Homo sapiens: one gene and its partners. The protein of the gene in region 7 purifies or fractionates together with the protein of the main gene of each other region. This does not show direct contact. Each region holds a gene or a part of one and is shown on either strand. Other genes may lie near its edges. The genes, in order: TIMM9, LYPLA1, WDR1, SDHAF2, ALDH1L1, C11orf58 and OXCT1.

What was found.
Region 1: the proteins of OXCT1 (region 7) and TIMM9 fractionate together in Homo sapiens (co-fractionation; one large-scale study listed by BioGRID). This does not show direct contact.
Region 2: the proteins of OXCT1 (region 7) and LYPLA1 fractionate together in Homo sapiens (co-fractionation; one large-scale study listed by BioGRID). This does not show direct contact.
Region 3: the proteins of OXCT1 (region 7) and WDR1 fractionate together in Homo sapiens (co-fractionation; one large-scale study listed by BioGRID). This does not show direct contact.
Region 4: the proteins of OXCT1 (region 7) and SDHAF2 fractionate together in Homo sapiens (co-fractionation; one large-scale study listed by BioGRID). This does not show direct contact.
Region 5: the proteins of OXCT1 (region 7) and ALDH1L1 purify together in Homo sapiens (co-immunoprecipitation; one large-scale study listed by IntAct). This does not show direct contact.
Region 6: the proteins of OXCT1 (region 7) and C11orf58 fractionate together in Homo sapiens (co-fractionation; one large-scale study listed by BioGRID). This does not show direct contact.

The regions. Positions count from the first base shown.
Region 1 is NC_000014.9:58,407,995-58,410,531, forward strand, and holds the end of TIMM9 (mitochondrial import inner membrane translocase subunit Tim9), read right to left. Parts: intron 1,175-2,537; coding exon 1,040-1,174; 3' UTR 589-1,039; coding exon of another isoform or gene 535-588; 3' UTR 501-534; downstream 1-500. Other genes in the region: TOMM20L (TOMM20-like protein 1), read left to right, coding at 535-588. UniProt on the Homo sapiens protein: Mitochondrial intermembrane chaperone that participates in the import and insertion of multi-pass transmembrane proteins into the mitochondrial inner membrane.
Region 2 is NC_000008.11:54,056,948-54,060,447, forward strand, and holds part of LYPLA1 (acyl-protein thioesterase 1), read right to left. Parts: intron 1-3,500. UniProt on the Homo sapiens protein: Acts as an acyl-protein thioesterase. Hydrolyzes fatty acids from S-acylated cysteine residues in proteins such as trimeric G alpha proteins or HRAS.
Region 3 is NC_000004.12:10,073,839-10,076,319, forward strand, and holds the end of WDR1 (WD repeat-containing protein 1), read right to left. Parts: intron 1,647-2,481; coding exon 1,540-1,646; 3' UTR 501-1,539; downstream 1-500.
Region 4 is NC_000011.10:61,436,624-61,440,123, forward strand, and holds part of SDHAF2 (succinate dehydrogenase assembly factor 2, mitochondrial), read left to right. Parts: intron 1-1,001; coding exon 1,002-1,225; intron 1,226-1,380; coding exon 1,381-1,490; intron 1,491-3,500.
Region 5 is NC_000003.12:126,103,070-126,105,328, forward strand, and holds the end of ALDH1L1 (cytosolic 10-formyltetrahydrofolate dehydrogenase), read right to left. Parts: intron 1,624-2,259; exon of another isoform or gene 1,542-1,623; intron 897-1,541; exon of another isoform or gene 778-896; coding exon 722-777; 3' UTR 501-721; downstream 1-500. UniProt on the Homo sapiens protein: Cytosolic 10-formyltetrahydrofolate dehydrogenase that catalyzes the NADP(+)-dependent conversion of 10-formyltetrahydrofolate to tetrahydrofolate and carbon dioxide.
Region 6 is NC_000011.10:16,752,147-16,755,646, reverse strand, and holds part of C11orf58 (small acidic protein), read right to left. Parts: intron 2,863-3,500; coding exon 2,753-2,862; intron 777-2,752; coding exon 543-776; 3' UTR 1-542.
Region 7 is NC_000005.10:41,731,996-41,734,425, forward strand, and holds part of OXCT1 (succinyl-CoA:3-ketoacid coenzyme A transferase 1, mitochondrial isoform 3 precursor), read right to left. Parts: intron 1-2,430. UniProt on the Homo sapiens protein: Key enzyme for ketone body catabolism.

The DNA of each region.
Region 1 (2,537 bases), on a different chromosome or scaffold from region 7:
TATCATATTTGACTGTCAGCTTTTGAACAAAACACAAACATGAACTCCATTACAGTATAACAGTCAACTCTTAAACATTCCCAAACTAGGGCAGATGGGATTGTTTCCTGAAGATATACGAAAATGTAGGTAAGATATGTGGCCAGGCGCGGTGGCTCACGCCTGTAATCCTAGCACTTTGGGAGGCTGAGGCAGGCGGATCACCTGAGGTCAGAAGTTCGAGACCAGCCTGGCCAATGTGGTGAAACCCCATTTCTACTAAAAATACAAAAGTTAGCCGGGCATGGTGGCACACACCTGTAATCCCAGCTACTTGGGAGGCTGAAGCAGCAGAATTGCTTGAACTGGGGAGGTGGAGGTTGCAGTGAGCTGAGATTGTGCCGTTGCACTCCATCCTGGGTGACGAAAGCAAAACTCCGTCTCAAAAAAAAAAAAAAAGAAAAGTATATGTAATGCCCACCCTGACACAAGGGAGGCAAGAAAAGGATCATGCATTGAAATGATTAGCAAGTAACTATTTTATGTATTCACCAGCAATTTGAGGCAGACATGAATGAACAGGACTGCTTGGAGGATGATCCTGATTGAAAAACATTTCAACGTATCCACAGTCCAGTGAGAATACTATGGTACCATACAGTATAAACAACTGCTCAGTGATATTTCCATTTATTTTACTTTGAGTAATAAAAATTTTTCTATCTCATACATGATCGAACACATAAGTTGCTTTAAAATTAACAGTCACAATTGAAGAAACAATGGTTTATTTTTCTAATCAAGTGACCAAGCTGCTGAATCATAAGGCCTCAACAAATGTTGCATCTTATTATTTCACTGAACAATAAGACCTTCTATTGTGATTATTCCTGGTAAATAGCAATTTTGTTTCTCCAGCGGTTTCCATTTGCCAAACAGTCATGACAGATGGTTGAACATGGTGGCTACTGCTTTCAGGGGATTCTATCAGATGAGTCCTCATTTCCAATAAAGCAGCTGTTGGCAATCTTTCATCAAAAGTTCATCCATCAGGACTTCTCTATCGTGGTTGGCCAAGGAGTCCTGCTTTGGCTGCCAGGGCTTCATTCTGCTGAATATGATATTCCTGAAATCTCATGGATATTCTTTGTGTCATTTTTAAATATTTCTGTAAGCAATGTTCTGAACAGGTGGTCTAGGAATGAAAAGGGAAGATCCAAGAGGCAACACAAAAATATGAATTTTTTAAAATGCATGTATTCTAAAAGAATCAGTGGGGTAGTTTGCTTTTCTTTGAATATATCTGAGAATTAAATAGTACTAATTGGCAGCAACTGACCATAGCTTTTAATTGATACTTTCATTCACTGACAAGCATTAATATATATTGAATGCCTGCCAGTTTGTAGTCACTAAGAGCAATGATAAGTCTCTGTTTTCAAAAAGCTTCTGGACTAGATTTTCTGCAAGTGTATTAAGTGAAAGCCCACATTCCTGTCTTCTTGTTTCGATTATTAAAATGTAGACCCAGTAGTAAGTTTGTTCCTTTTTAATGAGAAAACAACATTCTTAATTCTCAACCTTTTACTTATTTTAATTTTATTTATTTATTTATTTATTTTTGAGAGGGAGTCTCGCTGTGTCACCCAGGCTTGAGTGCAGTGGCGTGATCTCGGCTCACTGCAAGCTCCGCCTCCTGAGTTCACGCCATTCTCCTGCCTCAGCATCCCGAGTAGCTGGGACTACAGGTGCCTGCCACCATGCCTGGCTAATTTTTTGTATTTTTAGTAGAGACGGGGTTTCACTGTGTTAGCCAGGATGGTCTTGATCTCCTGACCTCGTGATCCGCCTGCCTCAGCCTCCCAATGTGCTGAAGTTCCAGGCGTGAGCCACCGCGCCCAGCCTATTTATTTATTTTTTTGAGACAGGTTCTCTCTCTGTTGCCCAGGGTGGAGTGCAGTGCCTCACTGTGGCCTCAACCTCCTGGGCTTAAGTGATCCTCCTACCTCAGCCCCTGGAGTAGCTGAGACTACAGGCACACACCACCACGCCTGGCTAATTTTTCATTTTATTTTTTAGTAGAGATGAGGGCTGGTGCTTTTTGTTGTTGTTGTTGTTGACAGGGTCTTGCTCTGTCGCCCAGGCTAGAGTGCAGTGGTGCAATCACAGCTCACTGCAACCTCTGCCTCCCGGGCTCAGGTGACCCTCTCACCTCAGCTCCCGAGTAGCTGGGACCACAGGCATGTACCAACATGTCTAGCTAATTTTTTTTTGTATTTTTTGTAAAGACAGGGTTTCACCATGTTGCCGAGGCTGGTTTCGAACTCCTGGGCTCAAGTGATCCACCTGCCTTGACCTCCCAATGTGCTGGGAGTTCAAAGTTACAGTGAGCTATGATTATGCCATTGCACTCCAGCCTGGGTAACAGAGCGAGACCCTGTCTTAAAAAAATAGTTAAGACTTCTAATAGGATGAGGTTTTCAATATGAGCCACCAAAGTCAAGCTTTGTTTTTTCCAAAGCCAACCAGAATTCCCAGGGCCATACAGAAAGGCTGTG
Region 2 (3,500 bases), on a different chromosome or scaffold from region 7:
TGAATAGACATTTCCGAAAAGATGACATAAAAATGGCAAACAGGCATATGAAAAGGTGCCCAACATCACTGATCGCCAGCAAAATGCAAATCAAAACTACAATGAAATATCGTCTCACCCCAGTTAAAATGGTTTTTATTCAAAAGACAGTTAATAGCAAATGCTGGCAAGGATGTGGAGAAAAGAGAACCCTCATACACTGTTGGTGGGAATGTAAATTAGTACAACTACTATGGGGAACAGTTTGGAGGTTCCTCAAATAACTAAAAATTGAGCTACCATATGAACCAGCAATCCCACTGGATATATACTCAAAAGAAAGTATCTTTCTTTTAACTATATTTGGGTATATATCTTTTGGGATATATACCCAAAAGAAAGGAAATCAGTATATTGAAGAGATATCTGTACTCCCATGTTTGTTGTAGCACTGTTCCCAATAGCCAAGATTTGGAAGTAACCTATGTGTCCATCAACAGATGACTGGATGAAGAAAATGTGGTACATATGCACAATGAAGTACTATTCAGCCATAAAAAAAGAATGAGATCCAGTCATTTGCAACAACACAAGTGGAACTGGAGATCATTATGTTAAGGGAAATAAGCCAGACACAGAAAGACAAACATTGCATGTTCTCACTTTTTTGTGGGATCTAAAACTAACTGAACTAACAGACACAGACAGTAGTAGAAGTATGGTTATCAGAGGCTGGAAGGGTAGAAGGGGGCTGGAGGTGAGGTGTAGCTAGTTAATGGGTACAAAAAAAATAGAATAAGACCTACCATTTGACAGTACAATAGGGTGACTATAGTCAATAGTAACTTAGTGTACATTTTAAAATAACTTACAAGAGTGTAAATGGATTCTTTGTAACTCAAAGGATAAACGCTTGAGGGGATGGACACCCCATTCTCCATGATGTGCTTATTTCACATTGCATCCCTGTATCAAAACATCTCACGTACATATAAATATGTACACCTATGTACTCACAAAAATTGAAAATAAAAAAATAAAATTTTAATTAAAACTTCAATAATTTCCCATTAAATATTTTGTTAACAACAGTTCTTTCTCTCATCAAGAGATGGATTTTTAAAAAATTAATAGTTAATTCTGCTCATATATATTCCATGTTTCTCTCTTCAATGAACCATAGGCATTTGTACCTAAAAGTTGTCATTTTAAAATTGTACGTAGTTAAGTGTTTAAAATTGTACGTAGTTAAGTGTTGTACGTAGTTAAGTTAATGGTTTAAAAAGTGTTTAAAACCATTCATTCTATTGTTTTTTAAAAAAAATCACAGAATTGGCCAGGCACAGTGGCTCACGCCTGTAATCCCAGCACTTTGGAAGGCTGAGGCCAGCAGATCAACTTGAGGCCAGGAGTTTGAGACCAGCCTGGCCAACATGGTGAAACACCGTCTGTACTAAAAATACAAAACGTAGCCGGGCATGGTGGCACAGGCCTGTAGTCCTAGCTACTTGGGAGGCTGAGACAGGAGAATAACTTGAACCCAGGAGGTGGAGGTTGCAGTGAGCTGAGATTGCGCCACTGCACTCCAGCCTGAGCAAGAGAGCAAGACTCCATCTCAAAAACAAACAAAAAAAAACCAGAATAAATCTCTTTTGCTCGCTCACACTCTCTCTCTGTGTCTCTGTCTCTGTCTCTCTCTCTCTCTCTCTCAAAACAGGGTCTCACTCTGTTGCTGACCTCTCAGGCTCAAGCAATCCTCCCACCTCAGACTCTCAAGCAGCTGAGGGGGCCACAGACATGCGCCACCACGCCCAGCTAATTTTGTTTTTTTTTTTGTAGCGACTCTTGCCCAGGCTGGTTTTGAACCCCTGGGCTCAAGTGATCCTCCTGCCTCAGCCTCTCAAAGTGCTAGGATTACAGGTATGAGCAACATCCCTTGGCCTCAATCACCTTTCACCTAAGGGTAAGGGCACTATGTACCCCCAACTATGTAACCTGAGCACTGTCTTCTTTGTTCAGTAGCACATTCTCTTTTGTTTTTTCTTTCCTGGCTGAGTCTGATTCTAATTTTCTCTGAGAGGAATTTTCAGAGAGGAAAGAAGTAACAAGTATTTCATAGGCCAACTCTATTGTTAGGACAGAATCTTTCATTCTGGACCTCATGAGGCCCACGTATCTTCTTCACAGGGCCCAGGCCCTCCCTGTTTTCCATAGCATCTAACACTTACCCTCATACTTTTGTCATCTATTATTTTCAGACAAAATCCCAACTCTAGGATTCTAACTCTAATCTACTTTTTAATGATCCCATAAGTCAGTGTTGTTGGTTTGACATTCCCAAATATCTCACATCTTTTGAATGTATTTTCCCTGTTTTTTTTTTTTTTTTGAGACGGAGTCTCGCTCTGTTGCCCAGGCCGGACTGCGGACTGCAGTGGCGCAATCTCGGCTCACTGCAAGCTCCGCTTCCCGGGTTCACGCCATTCTCCTGCCTCAGCCTCCCGAGTAGCTGGGACTACAGGCGCCCGCCACCGCGCCCGGCTAATTTTTTGTATTTTTAGTAGAGACGGGGTTTCACCTTGTTAGCCAGGATGGTCTCGATCTCCTGACCTCATGATCCACCCGCCTCGGCCTCCCAAAGTGCTGGGATTACAGGCGTGAGCCACCGCGCCCGGCCATTTTCCCTGTTTTAAAGACCTTAAAGAGTTCTTTTAAAACAAAAGGGCTGCGCTCAGTGGCTCATGCCTGTAATCCCAGTACTTTTGGGGAGGATCACCTGAGGGCAAGAGTTTCCCACCAGCCTGGACAACATAATGAGAATTCATCTCTACAAAACAGTTTAAAAATTAGCCAGGCATGGTGGCACATGCCTGTAGTCCCAGCTACTCAGAAGCTGAGGCGGGAGAGTTGCTGGAGACCAGGAATTTGAGGCTGCAGTGAGATATGATCACCAACTGTACTCTAACCTGGGCGACAGTCTCTAAGTAACTATGTAAATAAAAAATTACCAAAAAGCAAAACAATTCACAGCCAGCCTGCCTTGCCATTGCTGCCCACACCCACCTACACCCACCCACACTCAAGAGTCACCAACCAGATTTTCCTGAAGGCAATCCCAGTCCTCACATTATTATACTTGTCAATATTTCAGTACACATATGTAAAAGAAAAGCACATTCCTGTGCACCTGTGCATTTCTTTCTTTCTTTTTTTCCTGAGACGGAGTTTCACTCTTGTTGCCCAGGCTGGAGTGCAACAGTGGGATCTCAGCTCACTGTAGCCTCTGCCTCCCAGGTTCAAACAATTCTCCTGGCTCAGCCTCCCAAGTAGCTGGGATTACGGGCAGGCGCTACCATGCCCGGCTAATTTTGTATTTATAATAGAGACGGGGTTTCTCCATGTTGGTCAGCCTGATCTCGAACTCTCGACCTCAGGCGATCCGCCTGCCTCAGCCTCCCAAAGTGCTGGGATTACAGGTGTGAGCCACCGTGCCCGGCCTCCTGTGCATTTGTTAAAAATAG
Region 3 (2,481 bases), on a different chromosome or scaffold from region 7:
TTTTTTTTTAATTGGGATTGCACATTTAGACAACTTTACAATTGTTACAAAAGTACAAAAGGCAGTTTCAAAGAACAGTGCCTTTCACTTTGCAATGAATTTGGATGTTTGGGAATTTGATTTTTAACATCTAAATGCATGCTATTCCTTACCTGAAAGCTATACAGGCTGCTAAGAATTTGAGAAGTAGATGGGATGCAGACATCATCTGGTCCAGTGTTTTCAGTTGACAAAGAAACTTAGGCTCAGAGAAGGGCAGGGATGTGACCCAGGTCAGAGGGTGATCTGGCGGTATGGTTGGGAGCAGGAACCGAGGGTTCCAGCCCCTTCTCTGGGGCTTCCCTTCCACCACATGATGGATCTGACAATCCTGTGTTCCAAACATTTCCTGCCTGAGGCTGCAGACTGGTAAGACCTCTAAAGCCATGAAAATCCCACAAACGTTCCTCCCCACCCAGCCGCCCCACACACCCCCATCACACAAAGTCAGTGACCCACAGTGAAGAGAAAAGATATTTAATTATTTCTCAGGCTAATCTCTTAAAGCGCTCAAAGTGTTTTCACAAGTGCAAGGGGAGGGATTGTTCTCAGCCAACATTTACCAGTGATTCCGACACACGCAAAAACACTCCCAATCACGGTGCTTTATACTTACTTTTAATTTCTGCACTGAAAAAGAAAAGGAAGGTAAAAACAATGACAGATTAGTTTACAGTGACTTCATCTTTGTCCTTAAATTAACCTTTGCTCTTGAGAGCAGAAGAGGGAAAGACAGGGGAACATCAAAGCATGATGGTGAAACGGTGACCAGGACACCTCGGTCTGGCTAACAAGGGTTCTAAAAACTTGGACACGGTGCCGTCAACGCACTAGTTTGTAAACACTGACAGGCAACAGTTAAGATACATTAAAAAAAAAGGAAAGATACCCACAATTCCATTCTTAAAATCAAGCACAAAATCTGACAATGAAACATATCCAGGGGTTGTGTGTCCCCATCTGATCTGGAGGTGGCGCTCTGAAGGCAGCCACAAGGTGTGAGTCACACACTAGGGAGACAGACATCTGTTCAACACAGAATTCCGGCTTTGCTGAACTGCAATGCATATTCCCTCTTCTCACTAGTACAGAAATGTTCTGCAGGCAGGAACATGAGCCCCCCGGCTCATTCACCTGTACAACCTCCCCTGACAGATAGTGAGAGCCGCGGCGGGGCCAGGGGCTCTGTGTGCTTTGGAGGCTACTGCCTCTGGAATGTTTCGCATTCTCAAGGTTTGGTTGGGCTGTGGGTTTTAGTTATGCTCCACACATTGTTTAGGTGCTCGCTTTATTTTTCATGTGCAAACTGTTACTGTCTAAAGCTTTCAGAAGAACGTGTACAGACACCCTGCAGAGACGAGGGTCATGACTGGGCCCTCCTGCCTCTTGTGGTGGGGTGGGGGCATGGGGGCGCGTCACAGAAATAGAGAAATGACATGTTCCGCTGCAGTTAAACTCTAGTCCCTGATTCGGTCCATCCAGAGGCGGGGGTGGGGCTCCTCAGTAGGTGATTGTCCACTCCTTGACAGAGGCATCATGGGAGGTCGTGACCAGCGTGTGCTCGTCCAGCCAGGCCAGGCTGCTGACATGGTGCAGCCGGTGTGCATCTGGGAAGAAAGGGTGCAATTTAACGAAAAGCCAAACTTCTCTGCAACTATGTACATCTTGGACTAGGAAGATGGAACAACCTGTGCCTAAATCATCTCCAGGGCCAAGAAAATGGCCACGAATCGTTGTAACTCAGGAGCCTGGCACGGTGGCAGTGTGGCTGAATTCTCCACGTGACACTCCTGAACCCCGGGGCCGGGTACCTCTTTTTTGTGTGCTGCAGGGTAATTAGCAGCATCCCTGGCTCCACCTACAGATGCCAGTGGCTCCCTCTCTCCAAGTCTTGACAACCAAGTTCCACAGGAGTGAAATAACAATGTCTTCTTATGTATAAAAGCGATGACATGCAGACACCACACAAACAGCTACACTGTATCCATGCCCTATTAAAATGGGGCAGGCATGACAACCAGTAAGAGGCTGGAACACACAGGACTGGGGGGGCCACTGACTTTCCCCTCTGTGACAGTCACACCGTGGGTGAACAGATTCGATTCCCCATAATCTTGCCTCCACCCAACCGAGATGCCAATAGTGAGACGGTGCCTGTGCGCTTATGGCTCCTCTGTGGCTAGCTCTGCCCATGAAGCCCAGGGAGGCTCCCAGCTGCAGGCAAGGGGGTTCCCACCAGCTCTCTGCTCCCCAGGTCCGGGTGGCCCCCAGCCTCTAGATCTGCAGCCCCACCTAGACAGGGTGAGATTCAGCCCCCACCCCTGCCTGGCACGGCATACATCCTGATGAAGGAAGCCTTGGCCTGCGGGTGGCACAGGTGCCCAGGAGCGCCTTCAACCACCAAGCATGACTTGGCTGTGAGGCCAGGCTTTAGCACTCTGT
Region 4 (3,500 bases), on a different chromosome or scaffold from region 7:
TCATGATCATGCTTGAGCAGGGAGGGAAGAGACTATGGCAAATGAGTGCTACAAATTTTTCTGCTGGATTCGATGCAGCTGGTTTTGTGCTCACCTGGGGAGCAGGAGCCTCTTACTGGTTTCTGGATTTCTCACAGGGAATTGGTTTGTTTGTTGCTGTTGGCTCAGTGTCTCCATCGGGGAAGGAGGATCTGGGGTTTCCTACTCCACCATCTTCACCTCTTGCTGAGGTCACCACCTTGACATCATATCTTGATAAGTTGTCAACTTCTCTGGATTGGGAGCCTTTGGGGGATTAGGGATCATGCTGTCTCTGTGTGCTCAGGATTTGACACAGGTGAGTGAGTAGAGTATAAACCACACTGTAAGAATTTTAAGGGAGTGCAAAGGAAGGAAAAATTATTTCTGCTGGGATAGTTTCTGGAAAGGCACTGGTTAGGGACACATTTGCAGTTAGGACTGTGTTTTAATTCTAATTGCAGTTACTATTTGGATGATTTTGGGTGAGTTATTGAACCTTCCTGAGCCTCTGTTTCCTTGGCTATAAAGTGGGGACAATATCAGCATAATTTCTTTTCTTTTTTCAGGGGGATAGGGTCCGTTGCCCAGGCTGGAATGCAGTGGTACGATCACAGCTCACTGCAGCGTTGACCTTCCCAGGCTCAGATGATCTTCCCACTTCAGCCTCCTGAGTAGCTGGGACCACAGGCACCATGGTGGGACTACCCCACTATGCCTGGCTAATTTTTGTATTTTTGGTAGAGACAGGGTCTCGCTATGTTGCTCAGGCTGGTCTCGAACTCCTGAACTCAAGTAATCATGCTCGCGTTGACCTCCCAAAGTGCTGGGATTACAGGTGTGCGCCACCACGCCTGGCCAGCAGTGTAATTTCCTCATGACTAAATGTGATTGAATGCATTCAGCACCTAGTAAGCATTGAGTAAATGATAGCGATGATAGTCGTCATTATTGTAAAGATGTTTGTGGTTTGTTCATTTCAGATGCTTGCTCTGTCAAGGCACAGCCTATTGTCTCCTTTGCTCAGTGTGACATCATTCAGACGCTTCTACAGAGGTGACAGCCCAACAGATTCCCAAAAGGACATGATTGAAATCCCTTTGCCTCCATGGCAGGAGAGAACTGATGAATCCATAGAAACCAAAAGAGCCCGCCTGCTCTATGAGAGCAGAAAGAGGGGAATGTTGGAAAACTGCATTCTTCTTAGGTATGGGACTAGGAGTCTTTTTTTTTAAATCGGGCAGCTTCCTGAGCCAGAGTAGGTTCAGAGAGACTCCCAGGAGTAGGAGTCTTGGTGTCACTTCTCTTTTATTAGACACAGCCTTCTCAACCTCTTTTTCTTTTTTTCTTTCTTGTTTTTAGTCTTTTTGCTAAAGAACATCTGCAGCACATGACAGAAAAGCAGCTGAACCTCTATGACCGCCTGATTAACGAGCCTAGTAATGACTGGGATATTTACTACTGGGCCACAGGTACTGGGTATGATAAGCAGCATAATGTGAAAATAGGACAGTTTAGGCTGATTTGAGTCTAGAATTGTATCCTAGATAATTTTTTTCTTTCTTTTTTTTTTTTGAGACTGAGTTTCACTCTCGTTGCCCAGGCTGGAGTGCAATGGCATGATCTCGGCTCACTGCAACCTCTACCTTCCAGGTTCAAGCGATTCTCCAGCCTCAGCCTCCTGAGTACCTGGGATTACAGGCATGTGTCACCACACCCGGGTAATTTTATATTTTTAATAGAGACAGGGTTTCTCTGTGTTGGTCAGGCTAGTCTCGAACTCCTGACCTCAGGTGATCCGCCCGCCTCGGCCTCCCAAAATCCTGGGATTACAGGCATGAGCCACTGTGCCTGGCTTATAATTTTTTTCTTTTATTCATGAAGTAGACACTCAACCCAAACACTGTTCAAATTTTTGTTAAGTGTACAAAATTTATCAGTTAAAGTTCTTTATTTGCGAGACAGAGTGGAAACTTGTTTGTCTCACTTAAGCAAAAAGGAATTTAGTGGAAGGGTATATGAAGCTCACAGTATCAAAGGTTGAAGAAGAACCACTCTGGGAATGGAGTGGAATCAGACAACTAAGTCTGCATAGCCAAAGCTCCTCAATAGTTTCATTCTGGCCGGCCGCAGTGGCTCATGCCTCTAATCTGAGCACTTTGGGAGGCTGAGGCGGATGGATCGCTTGAGGTTAGGAGCTTGAGAGCAGCCTGGCCAACACAGCGAAACCTCATCTCTCCAAAAATTCAAAAATTAGCCGAACATGGTGGCGGACAACTGCAGTCTCAGCTACTTGGGAGGCTGAGGCAAGAGAATCGCTTGAGCCTGGGAGACAGAGATTGCAGTGAGCTGAGATTGCACCACTGCACTCCATCCTGGGCAAAAGAGTGAGACTATGTCTCAAAAAAAAAAAAGTTTCATTCAGGCACTACCTTTATGAGGAATGAATTCTAACTGTGTATAGTTAGGATTAACTTTGGCTATGAGTAAAAAAACATCCAAAACAGTAATGGCTTAAACAAGGTAGAACTGTCTTTCTCATGACAGAAGTCCAGAGGAAGGCACACTCCAGAGCTCATAGAGGGGCTTCAAAAAGTCATGGGTCCAGGTCCCCCCTACTTGCTGCTCTTTCATCCTAGCATGTGTTTTCTACTTCTTGATCCAGGACAGCCATATTTCAGCCCGGAAAAAGTGTGTGGAAGTGCATACCCCTCCTTTGTAGATCCCGCTCAGGAAATTATCCAGCATACTTCCACTTATTTGCCATTGGCCACAGCTTAGTTACTTGGCTACGTCTAACCATAAGGAAAAATAATATAGTCTATTCCATCTGCCCAGCTGTGTTGGAGATTCTGTTATCGATGAAAACTGGATATTAGGGGACGTGTCATTCATTCTGCCACACTCCGGGACTGCTGTTTTTGTGTCTCCACTCAATATTTGTATCAGAAAGTAGCAGCCATTGTCTATGGGTTCCAGGTATGAAGAGTGATAAGACAGAGTCTGGAGCCTTATACAATCACTGGAAAGCCAACAAAGTCCAAATATTTACTCTCCAACCCTTTACAGAACAAGTTTGCCCTGACTTAGCATAATGCATTTGAGATGCGTATCCTTGTTGTTACTTGTATCAATAGTTCATTCTTTTGTGTTGAGTAATATTCCATTGTGTGGATGTACCATGGTCTGTTCATCTTTTGACCAGCTGAGGGACATTAGGATTATTTCCAGCTTTAGGTGATTATAAATGAAGCCACTGTAAACATTTGCATACAGATTTTGTGAACATAGGTTTTAGTTTTTCTTGAGTGAATACTCAGGAGAAGGATTTGCTGGGTCATGTGGTAAGTGTATATGTTTAACTTTATAATAGGGCCAGGTGTGGTAGCTCATGCCTGTAATTTCAGCATGAGATCACATGCTCCTCCTCTGGGAAGCCGAGGCAGGTGGATCACTTGAGGCCAGGAGTTCGAGACCAGCCT
Region 5 (2,259 bases), on a different chromosome or scaffold from region 7:
TACAGGGAGAGGGCACAGGAAAGAGAGCTATAGCTCAGGTCCCTGGGCCAAGGAGAAGCCATAAAGGTACATAGGAGACACCGTGTCAGACGGAAGACAGCTCTGCCTGGCATTCCCAGCTGGGCCCAGCCCTCCACTGCAGGCCCTCGGGCTGGCTACCAGCTGAGAGCACGGCCGTGCTGACAGAGCAGGGGCGAGGGCCCGGCCCCATCTGCTGAGGGAGTCTGAGCTGCTTCCCAGTCCAGGGCTCACCCAGCTCAATCCCCGTCTTCCCACCTGTTTCCCAGGGGTTACCCTTCCAAACCTCCTGCAGCCCTGACTGTCGCAGCTTCTGCTCTTTGGGGCCTGAGATGACCCACACCCATTTCCTCCTGTCTCTCTCCCCAGGTGTCTGGCTCTCCCAGGCCAAGCAACACCATCATACCCAGGTGATTGCGCAACTTCCAGGCCCACCCAGGAACACCCACAGGTGGAGCAGAGAAACGCAGAGATGTGGACGGTCTCTCTTCAGAAGCTTTATTCTCCCTGGGAGGGGCACACCTCACCCAGCCAAGGGCTGCTTCTGACTGGACAGAGGGCGTCCAAGATGCAGACATGGTGTGCAGGCAGGAGGGCTTCCACTAGCCCCCCAGGTGGGAGGTGCTGTGCACCCAGGCTCAAGAGGGAGGGGGCCCCAGCCACGAGGGAGGGGCAGGGACTTTCTTCTCACAAAGACCTTTCTTCAGTATTCGAAGGTCACTGTCTTGACCCGCAGGTACTCGTTCAGAGCCGCCTCTCCTGTAAGACACCACAAAGGTCACAGCAGCTCCCACCACAGGCAGGGCACTGCTCGGGGCTGCAAGTGTCTTATTCCTCAGCAACCACGTGGGGGCAGCTCTGGCTCACCCCACTTCCAGGTGAGAAGTCGAGGCCCAGCGAGGTCATGAATCTTACCCAGGTTATCCCTGGCAGTGGATAGTGGGCCAGGACTCCCCAGAATACAAAGCCAATCTGAGGCAGCCATTTAAGAATCTTCCCCAGCTCCCACCGCCTTGTCTGGACAGTGGGAAGCCCCTTCAGGTGGAAGGGGGTGGAGAGACTTGGCGTTACTGCCCAGACTCACTGGCCCATCTCTTCTCTCATGGCTGCCCCCAGCTACGTCTGCATCAAGCTGTGGCTGGGAAAAGGGGATGCCTCGCAGGGCCCTGAGGCCCCAGGCCTTGGCAGTGCTATGTGGCTGGTGCATCTCAGCCCCATGACAAGTGTGAGGCCTGGGGCTGCCTGACAGCTCCCCAGCAGCTCTGGCTGGCCCCAGGAGTGGCACTGCCCCGTCCCTCTGAGGTCCTGAGTCTGCCCAGGCAGGCTGCTTGGAAGGCTTGGCTTGTGGGCCTGTCCCAGGAGGGTGCTGGTCCTCTCAGCAGGACATGGGGACTAGGGTTAGGAGGGAGCTGAGGGAACTCGGGGAGGATTCATAAGGGGCCCAGATCACGTCCTGGGGACTTGGCAGCCACAGCCTTCCCTGGGTGGCCATGGGCCTCATGGATTCCCCTGGTGGACACCAGGAAGGTGGCCTGGGAGAAGGCAGGAAGAGGAGGCCGACAGGGACAGAGGAAGCAGGAGTGTCCAGCCTACACATGCGTGCATGTGAGTCCAGCCCTGTGGGCACACATGGGCCCCTCTCATGGGTACCCTTGGGGGCTTCTGCAGGGCTTGAAAGATGGGGGCAGGGGGAGGAGAGAAAACTGGAAACAGTGACCAGCCTTTGACCCCCAGCCTCAGCATGACCTTCCCTGTGGTCTCTGGGCTGGCACAGGAGCCTGGAGAGACAGGTGGGACCTCTGAGACAGCATATGGCTTCCCCGGACCTTGCCAGCCACCCTTGCCAAGCTTGCCCATCAGACCTGTCTAGTCCCCCCTGCTGAGAGAGCAGGACGAGGCCCAAGGCTTGGAGCAGCCCAGGGAGAGAGGGCCGGAGCAGAACTCCATGCCACCCAGCAGGCAGAGCACTGGGGAGCCTGTGCTGTGTGCCGGGGGACCCCGCCTGCTATGTGCCGGTGGACCCCGCCTGCTGCCGCCTGAGTAACTTCACCTCTACTGGGAGACTTGCAACACCCGTGGTGTTCACCCGGGGGTACATTTGGTCCCATGGCTCCTCTTTACACTAAGGATGCAACCTGAGCCCCTGACCATGGCCCATGGGCCTTCAATCTGGCCCCTACCTGCCTCTCAGGCCTTCTCTCCTCCCTCCTGCTCCCCCTTGGCCCACTCCCACCACTCTGG
Region 6 (3,500 bases), on a different chromosome or scaffold from region 7:
TGAAAAGTACTTGCTCTCATGTTGCTTTGGTCCAAAAGAGTAGAGCTAACTCAGTAACAGGAAACTAAGTACCCAATCTTTTGCCAAAATTAATTTAGATTGTGACTGGCAGCAGAAATATCCATAATGAACAGCTCTACTATAACAAAGAATAATTAAAGAATACTTTTCGTGAACATATCACAGTATCAAATACATTTTTATAAGAGAAAAATATGAAGGAAATGATAAAATAGCTATCACAAACAAAAAGAAGCATTTCCCCCATAAGGTGAATTAGAGGGTTGATGATGCTAATATGAAAGGAAGTTGAGTACTGTATTTATTTCTTATTTTATACAACTCTTACTCTTTACAAAAATGGTTATAGTCATGCCCATAAAAGTGTAACCCATGGCATTTGAAAGCAAACACTCTTTGTAATTATTTAAAAGGGCCTTTTTAAAAATTATAATACAAAGGTCTGTGCTCTATAAGCAGTCCTCCACTGTGCATTGTAACAATAAGGCTTACTTTTAATACAAAGACTAAGCGTTTGGGAGTTATGAACCACTGGATTTAACAAACATCATTTTATAATTGCTTTTTGCATCTTTTTTGTTTTTGGGATCCTCCACTTCATCAGGGTGCTCAGCAGCTTGGAGTTCTTCAGCAGATTCTTCTTTCTCTGACTCTGAATCGCTTTCAGAATCATCTGGACTTTCAGGATCAGGTGAATCATCATCGTCATCATCATCATCTCCAGCCACATCACCTTCTCCATCATGGTCTTCTACCTAAAACATCAATCAACAGGCTCTTTTAAAAATAAACATTAGCCCATACAAAATCTGAGAAAGACCGTAAGTTCTGTCGGTCTTAGAAACACTCTACTTTGTAGCCATTAGAACAACAGCTTTAAGACTTGAGTAGAATTTTAAGAAAGAGCTCTGTCTGGCTGGGCCCAGTGGCTCATACCTGTGGCTGGGATTCCAGCTACTCAAGAGGCTGAGAGGCAGGGGGATTGCTTGAGGCCCAAAGTTTGAGACCAGCCTGGGCAACATAGTGAGACCCTGTCTCTTAAAAAAAAAAAAAAAAAAAAAAAAAAAAAAAAAAAAAAGGGAGAGAGAGAGAGAGAAACTAAAAAAAAAAAAAGAAAAAAGAAAAAAATTAGCCAGGCATGGTGGTGCATGCCTGTAGTTCTAGCTACTCGGGAGGCTGAGGTGGGAGGATTGCTTGAGCCTAGGAGTTCAAGGCTGTAGCGAGCTATGATCATGCCACTACATTCCAGCCTGTGTGACAGAGCAAGACTCCATTTCTTAAAAGACAAAAGAAAACAAGAGGGGAGGTGCTCTGAAGATCACACACCTATCTCCCCTCCCCTAGTTTGAAAACCATGGTATTATATTTTCCTGAAAGAAACAATTTTTTAAATTAATAAGGCATGTTAACCACTGACCTTTATGTAGAAATCAGTTATCAATGTTTTGCACATTGTATTACTTTGGAGTAAACAGTAGTCACACATAAATTCATAATATAAAAAGAGATCACTTAGGAAACAACTGAAAAAAAAATAAAAAAGCTCTCCTAAACCATTATTTTAAACCTAAATGAAATATTTTACTTAACTTGTGAGCATGTTGTTGTTCACGCCTATTAAAAATGTGCCCTGGCCGGACATGGTGGCTCACACCTGTAGTTCCAGCACTTTGGAAGGCGGAAAGATCGCTTGAACCCAGGAGTTTTGAGACCAGCCTGGGCAACATAGCAAAACTCCGTCTCTACAAAAAATACAAAAATTAGCTAGGCATGGTGGTGCAGGCCTATATCCCAGGTCCTCAGGAGGCTAAGGTGGCAGTGAGACTGTGCCACTATACTCCAGCCTGGGTGACAGAGTGAGAACCTGTCTCAAAAAAGGGGGAAAGAAAGGTACTCTAATGATTAAGCAGAATTTTCACTTTCAGAAAACACACTTTAAAATCCTTAGAAACAGGCCAGGTGAGGCTGGACATGGTGGTTCAAGCCTGTAATCCTAGCACTTTGGGAGGCTGAGGTGGGCGGATTGCCTGAGCTCAGTAGTTCAAGGCCAGCCTGGGCAACATGGTGAAACCCTATCTCTCCTGAAATACAAAAAATTAGCCTGGTGTGGCGGCATGCACCTGTAATCCCAGCTACTCGGGAGGCTGAGGCAGAATTGCTTGAACCCGGGAGGTGGAAGTTGCAGTGAGCTGAGATGGAGCCACTGCACCCCAGCCTGGGGCAACAGAGAGAGACTGTCTCCAAAAGAAAAATAAAAGGCCGGGTATGGTGGCTCACACCTGTAATACCAGCACTTTGGGAGCCCAAGGTGGGTGGGATCACCTGAGGTCAGGAGTTTGAGGCCAGCCTGGTTACATGGTGAAACCCCATCTCTACAAAAATTGGCTGGGCGTGATGGCAGGCGCCTGTAATCCCAGCTACTCAGGAGGCTGAGGCAGAAGAATCACTTGAACCCGCGAGGTGGAAGACATCACACCACTGCACTCCAGCCTGGTGACAGTGAGACTGCATCTCAAAAAAAAAGGAAAAAACAACCCCACACAAAATCCTTAGAAACATCTCTCCTGATTATCTACAAGACCAGTAGGGCATATACAAAATTATTTTTAAGATAACTACATACAGAAAGCTTTCTACATGGGATTCTTGATTGCTAGGGTAATCTAACAGCAATAAATGGTACCAAATTGAAAACTAATTATCTTCCCAATGAAAATAAGTTAATTACTACCTCACTGAAGCCAAGTCCACAATGTCGCCGATATCTTCCTGATAATTTACTGTCCATACTTTGCTGATATTGAGACTCCAGTTCTTCATTAATTTTCTTGTCTTCTTCCCCTGCATGTCCAGGATACTTTAGTTATGTTTCAGTCAAATTAATAATTTACACAAAAACCCATAATACAGATGCTATTATACTCAGGGCTGATTTATCTAATTGTGACTAATTTTACTATGACTTTTGAGAATTTATGCCATAGGTGGTTACCTAATAGAAAATAAAATGCCTGATGTTGAGATAGCATAAATATTTATTACTAAGCACTTTGGGTATTAAATGTTTTAGCTTACTTATAATAAGTAGATGTTATCCTGAAAGATTTTTTTCTAGTCACCTAATAAAAACTCTCTAACAAACAGAATTATCTATCTTTGAACAAAAACAGTGAAAAAAGCTAGGCACTTCTGTTCAGCAAATGGCTAAATAAAATGGTCATGTACTGACTCTTCTTTATGCCTTTCTTTGCTTATCAAGTTTATCAGAGCAACTTAAAAGTTTAAAGCAGCAGTTTCCAACCTTTTTGGCACCAGGCACCGGTTTTGTGGAAAACAATTTTTCCATGGAGGGGGGTGGTGGTGGTTTTGAGATGATTCAAGTGTATTACATTTATTGTGTACTTTATTATTATCACATCGTAATATATAATGAAATAATTGTACAACTCACCATAATGTAGAAGCAGTGGGAGCCCTGA
Region 7 (2,430 bases):
AGGATGAACAAGGCTGGCAACAAGGAGCAGGTGGAAGAGGAGCAGAGGAAAACAAAGGATCCCAATAACCAAGCCCCCTGTCAGATGGATCACTGATCTCCGAGACTGATGCCTCTGAGACTTCACTTAAGACGCAGTACAAACCCCAAGTCTCCAAAACCTCAAAATAGATCCAGCCAATTCATAATTTTGTTGAAAGATGCTTTATGTAATCTTTGGATTACCTAAATACATATTAATGAAGAGACGTATGATCAATGATAAATCTTATCGGAAATTTCATAATCAGAATAGAAATGATACAAAGGCAATAAGAGGATTCCAAGTTATTAAAATATGGAAGTAATAGCATTAAAACAATTAAATGTTGATTATAATTATGTTCAGTGTATAAAACAGTCAATGCTTTCCTGCGAATCTGCAAGCAGAGAAAAGTGACAATGAATGTATATTTAAGGTAGAGCCGGTTGCAGGAGAACCATAAATATAAGTGGTCAGTTTAACTGAGACAGATTTTTCAAAGTGTGGTACCAGGTTCAGATTCCTTAATTCAACATGGCAAATATTGATTGGGTTCTAGTTAGTAACAGTCCCCATGGGAAGCAGGAAATACCAAAAATTGGGTGCTTTTTGAAATTCTGAAAGATGTGGCAATCAAAATGAGCCCAATTAGCATTTTACCTTCCAGAATAAACAATATTTTCTTAAATTGATAAATGAACAAATGAATGAATAAGTAGATAATTATATAAGTTTCAAAGAACTAGAAGGGAGGTTCCTAATAGAGGTTAAATCATCAGTATTAAAAACTGAAAGAACAGGCAGTCATTTGGCTTTCATAAGGTTAAATAGTTTTAGTTCATTTATAAATGTCTGCATTAGCTCTTCACAATTAACTCTTCATAGTATCAAGAGTTAATGTCTTGTCTTCCATTTTTGTACTAAAATATTAAACCAGAATGGCAAAAATGTCTACTAAAAGAATAAATAAGAATAAACAATAATAATAAAGTTCAGCATGATTTGGTATATAGCTTATGGTAAATGAGAACGCATTATGACTTATTTCTAAGAGTAGACATACAGACAAAATAAACAGAATAAGTAGACAAAAAGTAACATCACACATACGCACAGATTTTCAACTCTACTAATAATAACATTTAGTATTTAGATAAGTATATCTCACAGTTCATTTTCTTTCTTTTTTTTAAACAACAGAGCATCTGTGGAAATAATTTAGTGAAACTTTTTTTTTTTTTTTTTTTGAGACGGAGTTTTGCTCTTGTTGCCCAGGCTGGAGTGCAATGGCGCGATCTTGGCTCACCGCAACCTCCGCCTCCTGGGTTCAAGCGATTCTCCTGCCTTAGCCTCCCAAGTAGCTGGGATTACAGGCATGTGCCACCATGACCAGCTAATTTTTGTATATTTAGTAGAGACGGGGTTTCTCCATGTTGGTAAGGCTGGTCTTGAACTCCCGACCTCAGGTGATCCACCTGCCTCAGCCTCCCAAAGTGCTGGGATTACAGGCGTAAGCCACCGTGCCTGGCCCAATTTAGTGAAACTTTTTTACTACAAATCATTTTCTATAGATGCTTCATAGCACTTCCTTTAAAAAGAAACTGGACACATTAATTTTTTTAACTAAACATCTGATCCTTTTCCTTGTCATGTCAGCCCTATTTTGAGCTCTTAATGTCATTTACATTCTCAATGTGAAAAATGACATCAAAAATAAGATAACGCTTTATATAGACTGACTTTGCCTGCTTTTTAATGAAAAACATCTACTAAACCACCATTTCTCATTCTGTTCTCCCAGTCTCATCAACGTTGTAAATTCATGCAAGCCAAAGGAGCTTATTCTGCCAACGTGATCTGCAGGCTAAGCACAAGGTGACATGATTTAGCTATAGAAGACAAGCCAATGATTTGTCTTCCCAGTGCATTAATATCCCAAAAGTATATTGCTTGACTCTGGTAGAATGCCAGTTCATAGTAGATACTGAGAGTATAAATTTATTCAATTAGGCAAGGAATGTCTGCAGCTTCTTTCAGATTCCACTGCAAACATATCAACAAACATTGCTTTTACTAGTTTTTTATTTGTTTGTTTGTTTTGCCACTGGTGGTTTAGGTATATTCCTGCCTGGAGAATAAAGCCAAGGCTCTTGGGAGCAAGAACCATAAATTGGTTCTATTTTATTCATATTTTACAGCTCAATATGGAACATACATTGGGTGTATGACTAGTGACATCTGGAAGTTTATTCTAACACATAATGTTTAAATATGGAATACATTTTTAATTTTTTAAGTTAAGAAGATAAAATCAAAGAAATATTGTTTCAAAAGAGGTCCACAGACATATGGTTTATAAAAACACCTATTTTACATAGCTTAAGCATTCATCAGAAAAGAAACAACCCA